Regions from separate parts of the Homo sapiens genome. Here region 2 is linked to region 1. A link means that fine-mapping ties the variant in region 1 to the expression of a gene that starts in the linked region. Tissue or cell type: whole blood. Region 1 holds a variant in brackets; the other region holds the start of a gene. All regions are shown on one strand. Distances are between the middles of the regions.

The links. PIP is the estimated chance that this variant, and not a neighbour inherited with it, causes the effect.
Region 2: RNF181 starts here. The variant in region 1 is fine-mapped to the expression of RNF181 in whole blood (TOPMed, PIP 0.96).

The regions. Positions count from the first base shown.
Region 1 is chr2:85,507,183-85,515,283 of GRCh38, forward strand. No RefSeq gene overlaps it. Among named protein-coding and RNA genes, the nearest start is that of PARTICL, 28 kb to the right of the region's middle. RefSeq lists a silencer at 6,166-6,345. The variant G/T (reference allele first, on the strand shown) is at 4,573.
Region 2 is chr2:85,591,466-85,599,566 of GRCh38, forward strand. It overlaps RNF181 (ring finger protein 181), which reads left to right and starts at 4,280. Exons shown (of 5, transcript NM_016494.4): 1 at 4,280-4,384; 2 at 5,054-5,184; 3 at 5,357-5,466; 4 at 5,639-5,713; 5 at 5,980-6,243. The coding sequence starts at 4,299. The coding sequence ends at 6,039. It overlaps VAMP5 (vesicle associated membrane protein 5), which reads left to right. Exons shown (of 3, transcript NM_006634.3): 2 at 260-397; 3 at 1,483-1,941. The coding sequence ends at 1,692. TMEM150A (transmembrane protein 150A) reads right to left here. Exons shown (of 8, transcript NM_001031738.3): 7 at 8,060-8,101; 8 at 7,082-7,852. The coding sequence ends at 7,611. RefSeq lists enhancers at 1,227-1,728, 1,729-2,228 and a silencer at 4,172-4,311.

The sequences.
Region 1 (8,101 bases):
CACAGCTTTCCTCTTGATTCCCTAACCGCTCTTTACATGTTTATTTTATCTCTATCAGACTATGGGCTCTCACAGATGAAGACCATACTCTTCCTGCAAAACACTCGGTCCCACAGCACATGTAATATCTAAGAGGAACCTGAGAGGTCACTGGTCTAATCCCCTCATCAGACAAAAGAGGACCAGACTCAGAGAGAGAGGCACGTGCCATAGCGACACAGCCAGTTTCTTTGGAGGCCTGGTCTCAGCTCTGGACTGCTCAAGCCTATCCTTGACAGTGGCACTGCTCAGCCTGGACATTTAGAGTGTCCTTCTGATACAAATGTATTGAGTCTCTGCCCCTGAGCTAGAAAGATGGCAAAACAAAGATAAGAAAAGGCCAAAAAACCAAGCTCCCTAACATTAAGGATATTATAATTCAGAGGGAAAGATAGGGCACTCTCACAGACAACTAGAATACAAGCAGAAAGTGAGGATGAGTTGCAAGAGGCATACACCTAGTTGGGAAAGAGCCTGCTGGGGAGATGGACCAAAAAGGGCTCCACTGGGATTAAGCCAGCCCTTGAATGGGGATCAAAATAATGCAAATGAAGTCAGAGGCACTGAATCAGTTCATTTATTTAACAAACACTGACTACCATGTGCCAAACAAGGATCTAGATACTCAGGAAACACATCTCTACTAGCCTCATGGAGCTTACATTCAAAGAAGGGTAGGGGACAGGCACTAAACAAAATATATAAGTAAAAGTAGGTTAGATAGGCTGGTGGGAATGTAAAATGATGCAGCCATTATGGAAAGCAGTATGGTGGTTCCTCAAAAAATTAAACATAAAATTACCACTTGATCCACCAATTCCACTTCTGGGTATATACACAAAAGAATTGGCCGGGTGCAGTGGCTCATACTTGTAATCCCAGCACTTTGGGAGTCCGCGGCGGGCGGATCAGGAGGTCCGGAGTTCAAGACCAGCCTGACCAACATGGTGAAACCCCATCTCTACTAAAAATACAAAAATTAGCTGAGCGTGGTGGCGCACGCCTGTAGTCCCAGCTACTTGGGAGGCTGAGGCAGGAGAATCGCTTGAACCTGGGAGGCGGAGGTTGCAGTGAGCTGAGATCTTACCCCGGCACTCCAGCCTGGACAACAGAGCGAGATTCCATCTCAAAAAAAAAAGAATTGAAAGCAGGGACTCAAAGAGATATTTGTATACTCATGTTCATAGCAGTATTATTCACAATAGCCAAAAAGTGGAAGCAACTCAAATGTCCTTTGACAGATGAATGGATAAACAAACTATGGCATATACAGACCATGCAATATTATTCAGTCTTTTTTTTTTTTTTTTTTTTTTTGAGATGGGGTTTTGCTCTTGTTGCCCAGGCTGGAGTGCAATGGCGCAATCTCGGCTCACTGCAACCTCCGGCTCCCAGGTTCAAGCAATTCTCCTGTCTTAGCCTCCAGAGTAGCTGGGATTACAGGCGTGCACCACCACGCCCAGCTAATTTTGTATTTTTAGTAGAGGTGGGGTTTCACCATGTTAGTCAGGGTGGTTCAAACTCCTGACCTCAGGTGATCCACCCGCCTGGGCCTCCCAAAGTGCTGAGATTACAGGCGTGAGCCACCACGCCTGGCTAGTCAATCTTAAAAAAGGAACAGAATTCTGGCTGGACATGGTGACTCATGCCTGTAATCCCAGCACTTTGGGAGGCTGAGGCGGGTGGATCACCTGAGGTCAGGAGTTCAAGACCAGCCTGGTCAACATAGTGAAACCCTGTCTGTACTAAAAATACAAAAATTAGCCACGTGTGGTAGCATGCACCTGTAGTCCCAGCTACTCAGGAGGCTGAGAAAGGACAATTGCTTGAACCTGGGAGGCGGAGGTTGCAGTGAGCCGAGAGATTGCGCTACTGCATTCCAGAATGGGTGACAGAGTGAGACTCCACCTTAAAAAAAAAAAAAAAAAAAGGAATGAAATTCTGACACAAGCTACCACATGGATAAACCCTCAAAGACACTGTGCTAAGTGAAATAAACCAGACATAAAAGGACAAAGATTGGCCAGGCTTGGTGGCTGGCCGGGCGCAGTGGCTCATGCCTGTAATCCCAGCACTTTGGGAGGCTGAGGCGGGCAGATCGCCTGAGGTCAGGAGTTCGAGACCAGCCTGGCTAACATGGTGAAACCTCGTCTCTACAAAAATTAGCAAGGTGTGGTGGCAGGTGCCTGTGATACCAGCTACTTGGGAGGCTGAGGCAGGAGAATCGCTTGAACCCAAGAGGCGGAGGTTGCAGTGACCCAAGATCGCACCACTGCACTCCAACCTGGGCGACAGAGCAAGAATCCATCTCAAAAAAAAAAAAAAAAAAAGAGAGAGAGAGAAAGATCCTAGTGTTACAGTTACATGAGGCACCTAGTGTAGTCAAATTCATAGAGACAGAAAGTAGAATGGTGGTTACCAAGGGCTGGGGGGAGTGGGGAATGGGGAGGTAGCGTTCAAAGAGTATAGAGCTTCAACAGTTGAGGAAGATGCAAAAGGTCTGGAGATGGATAGTGGTGATGGTTGCACAACAATGTGAATGTAATTAATGCCACCGAACTGAAAACTTACAAACTATTAAAATGGTAATTTTTGTGTGGTGTATATTTTACCACAGTGAAATAAGTAAATAAAATAATAGGGAAGGGAGTAGGTTAGATGGTTTAAGTGTTACAGGAAAAAAATGAATAAATCAGGGAAGAGGGATGGGGTACCGGAGTGAAGCATCAATGTTAAACAGGGCATCCAGGGTGGCCAGGGAAAGTCTCACTGAGAAAGCAGCATATGAATAAAGATCTGAAGGAGGTGAGGGAGTGAGCCATATACGGCAATCTGGGGGAAGAGTGGTCCAAACAGAGGAATCAGCAAGTGCAAAATTCCTGAGGCAGGAATGGCAATAGGGCCACTGTGCTAGAGCCATTTTCTTTATTTTATTTTATTTATTTATTTATTTATTTATTTATTTATTTATTTATTTATTTTTGAGACGGAGTCTCGCACTGTAGCCCAGGCTGGAGGGCAGTAGCAGGATCTCGGCTCACTGCAAGCTCCGCCTCCCGGGTTCACCCCATTCTCCTGCCTCAGCCTCCGAAGCAGCTGGGACTACAGGCGCCCGCCGCCACGCTCGGCTAACTTTTTTGTATTTTTAGTAGAGACAGGGTTTCCCCATGTTACCAGGATGGTCTCGATCTCCTGACCTTGTGATCCGCCCACCTCGGCTTCCCAGGGTGCTGGGATTACAGGCGTGAGCCACCGCGCCAGGCCATTTTATTTTATTTTATTTTATTTTATTTTATTTTATTTTATTTTATTTTATTTTATTTTTTAGATGAAGTCTTGCTCTATCGCCAGGCTAGAGTGCAGTGGTGTGATCTCGGCTCACTGCAACCTCCGCCTCCCGGGTTCAAGCGATTCTCCTGCCTCAGCCTCCCGAGTAGCTGGGATTACAAGCATGTGTCACCATGCATGGCTAATTTTGTATTTTTAGTAGAGACAGGGTTTCTCTAGGTTGGTCTTGTCTCAAACTCCTGACCTCAGGTGATCCACCCACCTCGGCCTCCCAAAGTGCTGGGATTACAGCACTTCACCATGTTGGCCAGGATGGTCTCGATCTCTCGACCTCGTGATCCGCCCACCTCGGCCTCCCAAAGTGCTGGGATTACAGGCGTGAGCCACCACGCCCGGCCAACTCTGTGCCTCTTTGATCAATTCCAGTGGTACCAGGTAAACTGCTTATGAGTGAAATTTAGAAAAACCTCCCCCAGCAGTGGGGGAAAATGCACAGTGCATAAGGCCTTATTTGGGTGAGGAGTTGGGGGAGTGAATGTATTAACCTTGTAGTGAAGTCACCTTAGATTCTAGTAGTTATGCTTCTTTCAGGAATATGACCACTCAGACCATAAAAGCTGGATGTGACCATGGTTTCATTTCTTTGGAAATGATTCTGCCAGAACAGGAACTGAGAATTTTTTCTCTGTGACCTCTGGGTGAGTTTGTGTTCCATGAGAACATTGGGCTTTGCATTTCTCAGTACACTGCTCTCATAGCTCTTGGGTTTGGAAGAGGTCACTGTCATCAAACTTTTTATGACTTTAGCCCTCAGAGAACCAAGGATAAAGGTGAATAAAGAACGCATCCAAGGTAGAAAGCTCCAACACCCCCGAGATGTTTACTTTCTATAAAACCTGGAGTCTCATGCCAGAGGGATTATATAAAAATAAAGCCAGGGTAGCCAAGTGCAAACCGTAGAGTTATCAACAGTGCTGTGAGATGAAGTCTTTTGTTCAAGGTCCTTTAATTGCCAGATGCAAAAGATAGTAAAATGGATTCTTTTATTCTTGAAACTTTGCCAGCCTCGTGGCTAATGCCCACTACAGCTGCATTAAAGGCTCTGAGGATCTCTGCCAAGATGTGATGATGGCCAAGAACCAGTGATGACTTCAGGGGACCTTTCTCAACCTGCCAGCCCTGCCATCTTGGCCTAGCCCACAGGCCACTGCCTGACCCAGTCTGATTTATAGCTCCCATGGGATC[G/T]CTGTCAAAAAAGGATCCTATGGGATCCTTCCATAGAGGCTAATATTCACAGAACGCTTTAGAAAACGAGCTTAAAGTTTAATGTTGAGGGATGTTGTGGGCCAAAGGGTGGTCCTGAAGGGAACTTCTCTGAAATTCTGTGCTAGGAGCTAGGACTCAGGCACAGTGTTATGTGTCTCAGGCACAGTGTTATGGAAAGAGCATAGGATCAAGGGACAAGAAGTCCGAGATCAGTTTTTTTTTTCAGCTTTATTTCAGTATAACTGGCAAATAACAACTGTACATATTTAAGGTGTACAACTTAACGGTTTTTTTTTTTTGGAGGGGGTGGGGTTGTTTTTTTTTTTTTTCTTTTATTTTGTTTTGAGACAGAGTTTTGCTCTTGTTGCCCAGGCTGGAGTGCAATGGCGCGATCTTGGCTCACTGCAACGTCTGCCTCCCGGATTCCACCAATTCTTGTGCCTCAGCCTCCCGAATAGCTGGGATTACAGGCGCCTGCCACCACACCCGGCTAATTTTTGTATTTTTAGTAGAGATGGGGTTTCACCACATTGGCCAGGTTGGTCTCAAACTCCTGACCTCAGGTGATCCACCCACCTCTGCCTCCCAAAGTGCTGGGATTACAGGCATAAGCCACTGTGCCCAGCCCCTGTTTTTCATTTTTTTAGAGACAGGGCCTCTCTCTGCTGCCCAGGCTGACTGCAGTGGCACAATCTCGGTTACACTGCAAACTCCACCTCCCAGGCTCAAGTGATCCTCCTGCCTCAGCCTCCCAAGTAGCTGGGACTATAGGTGCATGCCCCACACCTGGCTATTTTTTGATTTTTTGTAGAGATGAGGTCTTACTATGTTGCCCAGGCTGGTCTCGAAATCCTAGGCTCAAGTGATCCTCCCACCTCAGCCTTGAAAAGTGCTGGGATTGCAGGCATCAACCATCATGCTGGTCCAACTTAATGTTTTGATATAGGTATACATTATGAAACAATCACAATCAAGACCATTAACATATTCATCACCTCACATAATTATCTATTCATTATTATCATATTATTATTATTATTTTGAGACCGAGTCTTCCTCTGTCACCCATGCTGGAGTGCAGTAGCATGATCTTGGCTCACTGCAGCCTCTATCCCCGGGTTCAAGTGATTCTTGTGCCTCAGCCTCCCAAGTAGCTAGGATGACATGCATGTGCCACCATGCCTGGCTAATTTTTGTATTTTTAGTAGAGTCGAGCTTTCGCTATGTTGCCTAGGCTGGTCTCGAACACCTGGCCTCAAGTGATCCGCCTGCCTCGGCCTTTCAAATTGTTGAGATTACAGGCATGAGCCACCATGCCTGACCTATTATTTTTTATTTTGTTTTGTTTTGCTTTGTTAGAGTCTCACTCTGTCGCCCAGGATGGGGTAAAGTGGTATGATCTCAGCTCACTGTAACCTCTGCCTCCCGGGTTCAAGTGATTCTCCAGCCTTGGTTTCCCAAGTAGCTGGGACTACAGGCGTGCACCACCATGCCCAGCTAATTTTTGTATTTTTTAGTAGAGACGGGGTTTCACTATACGTTGGCCAGGCTGGCCTCGAACTCCTGACCTCAGGTGATCCACCTGCCTCGGCCTCCCAAAGTGCTGGGATTACAGGCATGAGCCACCACGCCCGGCCCTACTATTATTTTTTTAAAGGAAGTCTGAGGTTTACTCATGGATTCACCTCTGTGCTGGATATCTTCTGTTGCCTACTCCATCCGGGAGCCACTCCCTACTCTCTCTCTTCAGTGCCCAGGAGACTGACCTGTGTAGAAACCTCAGCAGGCTCCCTTGCCCTCTGGCTTCCAATAAGGCCAACGAGGGTCTCCTTTAGGGGATCAGAAGGAGGGAGGACAGAGGGGTTGGGTGTTAATTATCCTGAGTTCTTAGACCTAGGAGGTCTCTGTGCACTGACACTGCAGGCCTCTCCAGTTCTGGTGACCTGGCCCTCCTTCCTCCCTCCATGGCAAGCCTATGTAGCTCCCCACAACAACACACTGTCCCTGTGGCTTCCCTGCACCCTGCCCCTATTTTTGTAAAGAGTTCCTTTATTAGGTTCTGCTGAAATTACCCAACTGGAGTGTGCCCTCTGTTTCTTGCCAAGACCCTGACCAATGCAGCCACCAATGAGTCCAGTGACCCTGGTCACACCACTTAGGCCCCGTGGCTTTGGTTTCTTCATCTTTATTTATTTTTAATTTTTTTATTTTTTAAAATTTTATTTTTATTTTTATTATTTTTGGGTTTTTTTGAGATGGAGTCTCGCTCTGTGACCCAGGCTGGAGTGCAGTGGCAAGATCTCGGCTCACTGCAACCTCCACCCTCCAGGTTCAAGTGATTCTCTGGCCTCAGCCTCCCCAGTAGCTGGGATTACAGGCACCTGCCACCATGCCCGGCTAATTTTTGTATTTTTAGTAGAGACGGGGTTTCACCATGTAGGCCAGGCTGCTCTTGAACTCCTGACCTCAAGTGATCTGCCCACCTTGGCCTCCCAAAGTGCTGGGATTACAGGCATGAGCCACCGTGCCCAGCCTAAAATGCCAGTTCTTACACACTTGCTTCACGGGGCTTTCATAAGGATTATAATAGATATAAAGCACTAAACAAACATAATCTTTAAAAAAAAAAACATAATGTGCTTTCTAAGTTTCACAATTCCAGAATGCGTAAAAATAACAAGTTGTCTTTTATATCAAGATGCTGCTGCCAATACGCAACTGCTCAAATATGAACTCTGAGCAGTTTTTCTAAAATTCACGATGGTTTTTATTGAGTACGCAAAAGGCTAAACTAGATTTCACTCTGATAAACATAATGATATTACGTGACCCAATAATATTAAATCCTAAAATCTATCCCAAACCCAGGCAGATAAGACAGCTAAGATAAAAACATTTTTAATATGTTGTACCCAACAGGGTAGTAATGATTTGTATTTTATTAGAAAAACTCTAAATAAAGACATTAGTATATTTTTCATTTTAGAAAAACAAAAACAGCTTTGTTATCACCATTGGCTACCAAGATATGGTGCTGGAAAAAATATATTGCTAGATTTAAAAGATAGGTCCCCACTTTAAGTGCAAGTTTTGATGCATTCTGTGTGACCTTAAGCAAAGCATTTAATCCTTCTAATGTTTTTTATCAGGTCTGTATTCAGGTGAGAGTCTCTCACTTAAATATTAGATCAAAGTGAAAGTCCTTTGTAACTGAAATTGGGCTATTTGTAATTGATCCCCCAAGGCTTCTTTAAATACTGTCATCTCTGATTATTCGTATCTGATTAAGATATGGAGAGGAGGCACTGAGGGCTGCCCTGATTTGAGATTCACAGGGGAATGGCCCTAAGTCTTTGAGGAAGACAGTGAGGGGACCAGGCAGAGGGCCAGAAGTCCCAATTGAATTGACCTAGCAATTTTTTTTTTTTTAAGAACCGAGTCTCACTCTGTCATCTAGACTGGAGTGCAGTGGCGAGATCTTCGCTCACTGCAACCTCCGCCTCTTGGG
Region 2 (8,101 bases), 84 kb after region 1:
GGTGCTGGAAGCCGGGACTTACCTAGGTCCTAGGCCCTGCCTTGACGTGCAAGGGGAGGAGCCTGTGAGACTTAAGGTGTGCCGCACTCACCCCGAAGGCCAGACCTTCACTCCGCACACATCATACCCTTACACGAAGGATGCTGTTACTCTCATGCTGTACCCACCTACAGGGGGAGAAGGAGGCTTCTAGATCTCAGGGGCAGATGAGGGCCAGGTGGGGGCCTCATGCAGCCCTGACCTCGGGCTTGGTGTCCAGGCAGGAATAGAGTTGGAGCGGTGCCAGCAGCAGGCGAACGAGGTGACGGAAATTATGCGTAACAACTTCGGCAAGGTCCTGGAGCGTGGTGTGAAGCTGGCCGAACTGCAGCAGCGTTCAGACCAACTCCTGGATATGGTGTGAGGCCTGGGGGAGCATGGAGGGGAGGGGAGAGGATTGGGAAAGTCTCTCTTGGGCTGTATTCAGGATCTCCAGTTCCTTGGTGGGGTTGAGGCCTTCTTGAGGGCCAGTGTGGGGCCTCTGGGTTTCCTCAGGCACCCATAGCCTAGACATGCAACAGATAGACCCCACAAGATAAGAAGGCCTTGGTTTGAAGCTGTGGACCTTCTTAAAGGTAGAAAACTGGTATCGTTTTTTGTTTCTTTTTTACTTTGAGACAGAGTCTCACTCTGTCGCCCAGGCTAGTACAGTGGCACAATCATATTTGCTGCAGCCTCTACCTCCCAGGCTTAAGTGATCCTCCTGCCTCAGCCTCCTGAAGAGCTAGGACTACAAGCCTGCACCACCATGCCTGTCTAATTTTTGATTTTTTGTAGAGATGAGGTCTCACCATGTTGCCCAGGCTGGTCTTGAACTCCTGGATCCAAGAGATCCTCCCACCTTGGCTTTCCAATGTGCTGGGATTACAGGCATGAGCCACTGTGTCCAGCCTGAGTACTGGCATTGTTAACTGAGGGTGAGACACTAGGGCTGAAAGTCAAGGGCCACACCGGTGTTTGAGATGAGTCAGGCTGGGAGGGTTCCACGGCAGGTGGTATAGAAAGAGAGCAGACAAGGCCGGGCGCGGTGTCTCACGCCTGTAATCCCAACACTTTGGGAGGCCGAGGTGGGCAGATCACAAGGTCAGGAGTTCAAGACTATCCTAGCCAGTATGGTGAAACCCCATCTCAACTAAAAATACAAAAATTAGCCGGGCGCAGTGGTGTGCACCTGTAGTCCCAGCTACTAGGGAGGCTGAGACAGGAGAATTGCTTGAACCCGGGAGGCAGAGGTTGCAGTGAGCTGAGATTGTGCCACTGTACTCCAGCCTGGGTGACAGGGAGAGACTCCTTCTCAAAAAAAAAAAAAAAAGAAAGAAAGTAGACAAGATGGGGAGGATGCAGGAGGAGACTAAGCCTTACTGAGATGGGGTTGGGAGGAGCTGGCTCCCAGGCCAAGAGGGTGCCAGCTAACTCCCACTTTGTGTCTGGGGGTATCCGCAGAGCTCAACCTTCAACAAGACTACACAGAACCTGGCCCAGAAGAAGTGCTGGGAGAACATCCGTTACCGGATCTGCGTGGGGCTGGTGGTGGTTGGTGTCCTGCTCATCATCCTGATTGTGCTGCTGGTCGTCTTTCTCCCTCAGAGCAGTGACAGCAGTAGTGCCCCACGGACCCAGGATGCAGGCATTGCCTCAGGGCCTGGGAACTGACCCAGCTGGTCCTGAAGGAGAAGCCAAATGGCTGCACTGGCCGATTCTGGTCTCCAGAGGACCTTGGTGTTTGCTCTCCCTTGACCCACCCCAGTGAGTGCCAAAGGGCAGCCCCAACATGTGCACCCCTGCATTTCCTGTCATGCCACAGACTGGCCCTTGAGGGCAGCCTGCTGTACTGGCCATGCTGGGCCAGCCCCACCTGGAGCTCAGTAAAAACTGCTGTTTGATTAAAAGCTGGTATCTGTGTGTGAAGGTCCCCAGGTTGGTTAATCCCATCTGTCTCTACCCCTAGGGCTGCTTAAAAAGCCCATCACCCAAAGGACTCCACCCCTGGGAGATGGCTCCTTCCTCTCCCTTCCCTACTTGATCCAGCCCGACACAGACAGGGAGTGTGGATGCAAGAACACAATGGCCCCCAAAGCAGACCCTTGAACCAGTCCTCCCCATCTGAGCCTGTTTCTCTGAGAATGAAATCTATTATTTTTCTGTCATCTTGGGGATGCTTAGAGGACCAATGAGACTGTAGATGCGATGACAAAGAAGAAAGCACTTCACCAATTTTTTTTTTTTTTTTTTGAGACAGAGTTTTTGCTCTGTTGCTCAGGCTGGAGTGCAATGGCACTATCTCAGCTCACTGCAAACTCCACCTCCTGGGTTCAAGCAATTCTCCTGCCTCAGCCTCCCAAGTAGCTGGGATTACAGGTGCCCACCATCACACCTGGCTAATTTTTGTATTTTTAGTAGAGACAAGGTTTCACCATGTTGGCCAAGCTGGTCTTGAACTCTTCACCTCAGGTGATCCACCTGCCTCGGCCTTCCGAAGTGCTAGAATTGCAGGCATGAGCCACCGCGCCTGGCCCAAAAAATTTTTCATAAGGCTCTCACCTTCAGATAAATGGTTTCCCCTCTGAACACTTCCCACTCCTCAATTTCTCTTTCCACATTCTATCTACCTCAAGCTTTACATCAGACTGCAGATGGGGGAAGTGACAGCAAGAGATGGGGACCTTAAAGCACTCCTTGGTATTCCCATCTCCCTCCCTCCCTTCCTTCCTTTTTCGACGGGGTCTCTCCTGTGTCTTCTCTCCCTCCCTCTTTCGACGGGGTCTATGTTGCCGAGGCTGGTCTCGAACTCCTGGGCTCAAGCAATTCTCTTGCCTTTAGTGCTGGGATTGCAGGCGTGAGCCACCATGTCCAGCCTGAATTCAGGCTTTTCAAAGCTACAGGGCCATATAGGCCAGGGAGGCAGTGCCTTCAGGGCCATAGCAAAGATCATTGGGCAAAGGCATGGAAGAAGGAAATAAAGCCACACCAAGACTGTGGAAACAGGGCAGCCTCTGCCTGGGCTACTTAGCTGCAGTTCAAACTCAGGTGTGAGTGGCAAGGGGAATTCAGGGTCAAGTGTGTAAAATAAGCAGTTCCTTGCTGGGTAAAGTGAGCGCTACTGACAGAAACCAGAATAAGCCTGAGTTGTGTGGAGCTTCACCCCTTACAGAGCGTGTTAGTTTTACTGAGCGCATTAGCGTCTTCCTCTCTTGGGAAAGATGGAGGAAAGCACTTGGCCCTGCAGCTGGTCTGCAACACCACTTACAGACTGCAAATTTGGGCAAGCCACTTCTGAGGTAAAAAGGGCATAATGACGCTTAGCTCCTGGGTCTATTGAGGGGATGATCGAGCGTGTAAAACATACATCAGACTAACAGTTCTAGATGCTAAATAGTACCTATCATCCAAATCATTGAGTGCAGTGGTTCTTAAACCTGCTTCACCTGCATAATTTATACAAGTGCCATTGCCCAGGCCCCACCACAGATCAGTTAAATCAGAATCTTCGAAGGTATCAGACACGGGTGTTTCTAAAGCTCCTCCGCGCCCATTCTCTCCTCTGGGAATTCATGTGTAGCCAGGAATGAAAAGGTCTTAGTACAAGCCAGCAGTTTTACAGAAGCTAGGGATAGCAACGGGCTGAAGGTAACAGTCCCATGAGCTGGTTGAGGCCCCAGGTTCTCCGGCAAAGAGATCTCTCTCAGTTGGGGAGGCTTGCCCCACCCTTTATTATTATGCCTAACACATAAGAAATGCGCAGGAATCAAACGCAAACTGGTGAACCAACTAGAGGGCCGCGGGGGCAGAAGTGTCCGGCGGGGATCCGGACAGCGCATCCGGAAGCGCCATGGGCCAACGCTCGCAGGAACCTGAACCCCTGGGCCAGCGCCGCCTTTGCTCGCAGAGGCCTCTAGCATCTGTACTGTCGAAGCCCTCTGAGCTTCAGGGCAGACTGAAGAGCCTTACACACCAGACACTTGGACGCGATCGCGCCAGAAATCCCCGGGAATTCAGTCTTGGCTCCGACTCCAAAACAAATGATTCCTCACCAGCCAGATCTCCATCATTGGCGTTAGTCTCTGGTCACCTGACTTGTTCAAGCCAATGAGAGGGGGCCGAATTAGTACTTCCGCTTTCCGTGCTGTTTAACGAGCCACTATGCCCGTCCCTCGGATACTCTGATTGGCCAGCCTCTCTCAGCTCGTCAGTTTATTGGCCAGCGCCGCTAGGCCGCTATCGAGCAGGGTCCGAGGGCTGTGTCAGAAGGCTGGGCAGCCATGGCGTCCTATTTCGATGAACACGACTGCGAGCCGTCGGACCCTGAGCAGGAGACGCGAACCAACATGCTGCTGGAGCTCGCAAGGTGGGTGCGCGGGGCTTGGGGATAGGGTCCAACCAGCAGGTTTCTGGGCTGGGGCTGGCTGGAGAAGGCGGATTACCAGGGGCAGCGGATTCTGGGGAGGACAGATGAGTAATCTGGAGTGTTAGTACGGGCGGCGAGACTGAGGGGTGTGGGGATGAGCATCTCGATAATTTGGGCCGTCCGTTGGGCCGGCCTGGGGCAAGGGGATTGCGGGAAAGATTGGAGCTGGAGAGTGGTGGGCGTGGGGGCGGAAGGACAGCAGGCTCTGGGAGGTCTCAGAGAAGGTGAGGCATGGGGGCGGGGTTGGGGCCGTGTGCTGTGAGTGGGTATATTCATCAGTAACAGCAGGCACTGCTGTTACTGGACCTGGAATCTGGCTTGGTCTTGGAATCTGGGCTCTACCAGGTTATTCAGCGTAGCCTGAGTAACTTCTCTGAATCTGTTGCCTCATGTGTAAAATGGGAATAAACACTTTACGTGCTGGGGCGGTCTGATAGCAGTTGTAAACTATTTCCCATCGTGCTTTTTATCTAGTGAGCATCTACTAACTACTAAGGGTAGCTATTATTCCTACTAGCTGGGCAGCGTGTTTATTAATGTCCAGTGGATTATGGGGACAAAGAAAAAGCATAGTTTTCCTTTGTTCTGACTTTACATCCCCTTCCCCAGGTCACTTTTCAATAGGATGGACTTTGAAGACTTGGGGTTGGTAGTAGATTGGGACCACCACCTGCCTCCACCAGCTGCCAAGACTGTGGTTGAGAACCTCCCCAGGACAGTCATCAGAGGCTCTCAGGCTGGTGAGGACACTGATTCTTTCTGCTATTTGGGCCAGACCCACCCCTTCCCCAAGCCAGACTGTGGTCTGGTCCTTCAGTTTTCCAGGTCAGGTGGGGGCAAGTGTCCTTCAGGAGTGGGAGCTTGGGAGGCAGAGCCTGTAGCAGCTCTCCTGATCAGCACTCCTTCCTAAAGAGCTCAAGTGCCCCGTGTGTCTTTTGGAATTTGAGGAGGAGGAGACTGCCATTGAGATGCCTTGCCATCACCTTTTCCATTCCAGCTGCATTCTGCCCTGGCTAAGCAAGGTACTGCTTCTCTTCTTCTAGCTCTCACCGTGCCCTGGGCCCAGTACTCAAGCTTCTTTCTGTTCATGGACTGCTGGGGGATGGAAGAAGAGTGGCAGTTGGGAGCAGGGGAGGGTGGTTATCAGCTTATGAAGATCAGACCAAGGCTAGAACACTACTCTACTTTTCTCAGACAAATTCCTGTCCCTTGTGCCGCTATGAGCTGCCCACTGATGACGACACTTATGAGGAGCACAGACGAGATAAGGTAGGGGCTGATGCTTAAGTGGAGGGGTCGTAATGGGCTCCCTGAGTCCTGTCCCCGCTGCCATCACTTCCCACCTCAGCAGGACTGGGTAGGCCTCAGAATCCCTGGCTCTGGCTGTCTTCTTAGTGACTTTGATTTGTGGTGAGAGCCTCAGCAATGCAGACGCCAGAGGCCTGAAAACAGAGCCAGCCCCATAATAGCTGCCCATCCCCTCACCCATAGGCCTTCAGTTTTGGCCCCTGCCCAGCATGCCTTCTTTCCTTCAGGCTCGAAAACAGCAGCAGCAACACCGACTGGAGAACCTCCATGGAGCCATGTACACGTGAGGAGGTTGGGGCTGAGTGCTGGCCCTCTGCGTCTTCCTTATTAACCTTGAATCCTCATTAAAGGTTTCTTTACCCACCCTGAGGCTGTATTGATCACAGACCTGGCCAGGGGCTCTGCATCCTCCATCAGGTCTCTACTTCTGTTGGGGAAGGTGATCCTAAATCGCAGAAGGCACCAGGCTGCGGTTTTCCTCCCTGCTGGCCCATCTGGACTCATGGCAGTGGTAAAGAACTGGATTACTGCAATAGCCAGGGCTTGGGCCTATGTGTTCATGGTTGGAAGGCAAAATGTGTCAGGGTCTGGTACCCAGTTAATTACTTAAAGCTGATAAACTAGGCTGGGTGCAGTGGCTCATGTCTGTAATGCCAGCAGTTTGGGAGGCCAAGACAGGTGGATCACGAGGTCAGGAGTTCGAGACCTTCCTGACCAACATGGTGAAACCCCGTTTCTACTAAAAATACAAACATTAGCTGGGCATGGTGGCACGCACCTGTAATCCCAGCTACTTGGGAGGCTGAGGCAGGAGAATTGCTTGAACCTGGGAGGCAGAAGTTGCAGTGAGCTGAGATCATGCCATTGCACTCTAGCCTGGGCAACAAGAGCAAAACTCCGTCTCAAAAAAAAAAAAAAAAAAAGCTGATAAACTAGCCTGCACCCTCCTCCCACTGCAATGTCTAGTTAACTTTGTAATCCCACAGGTTTTCTTTTTGCTCCATTGAGAAAGCCACTTTTAATATTTTAAAGTTGCTCTCTGTACCACCCCCACCTTCCCCCCATGCCTCCTAAGGAATCAAAGTTCAAACCAGACTCTGAGTGGGGGATGGGTGAGATTATCAGACCAAGTTAGTTCTTTAGATTGCTTAGAGGCCCAGAAGGGTTTCAAGCCCTTTGAAGGGGTATTTGGGTGGCACCTGGCATCCTTTGTTTCTGGCAACAGAGTGCACTCAGCACTCCTGGGGGGCAAGGGCTTCCTCCCATCCTTGGCTTATGGAAAGCCATCCCAGATCAGGCCCCCCAACTCTCCAGAACAGGCTACAAACATGCAAATTAGAATTCTTTTAATATAAAAAAAAGTACTAAAATACCCACGTGGTTCTGCTGTGTTATTTGCCCTAAAGGAAGTGAGGGGCAGAGTGAAGAATCCCAGTGCAGCTCAGTGGGCCCAGAAATGGGCCTTTCCGTAGGCTAAGGCGTGCCCACTCCACCTCCACCAGACTTCTATCCCCTCTGCTGTTCCCAGCCCCCAATTCCTGCAGCAGGAAACCCCAGTGGTCTGGCTTTGGCACTGGGAGTAGAAGGCACCTGAAGGGCTGGCTGGGTGAGTGAGGACAGGTGACCTTTAAAAACAAAACGACACCGTGGGGTGGGGAAGCAGGTCATGCAGCTGTGGCAGCTGGCAGGGCCCACTCCTCCATGGCACAGGTGGGCATGGGATGGCCACTTCTCCAGAAGTGAGGAAGCCCAGATCCCAACAGAATACTTTCTCAAAATTGTTTTTGGTACGAAATAAATGGAAAGAAGATATGGGGTGGGGTGCTGTGGAGGCCGGGCCAGCCACCCTCCCCAGACCTTAGATCATAGCGATGCTCTCGGGGGCACAGTTGAGGTGGGTGGAGGTGCTGCTGCTCCCGGAGGACTTGCAGGCCCGGCCAGGGGTAGGCTGCAGTGCAGCCACCAGTGTGTCTGAGGAGACTGCCCCAAACTCGTAGCTGAAGGTGCCATAGAAAATGAGGATATCGATGACACACACCCACTCACACAGGGCTGCCCCATGTTGCAGCTGAGAACTCTCATGGACAAAGAAGACTCCACCTAAAACGAGGCTAAGGAAATGTTCAGTAGGACATACGGAAACCTGGCAACACCCCTTCTGCAGTCTCAGGCCTCACCTCTCCAAAGGGAGAGGTGTTAGTCCTCTCCCCCACATGGCAGTGTTAGGCCTCCACCCCCCATCCTCTTGGGAGGGAGAAAGGTTGAGCTAGAGGATGAGTTCCTGGCTGCCCCGTCCTGAAAGGATACTGAGGACCAGGGTGATAAAGGCGATGACAGCCAGCACACTTC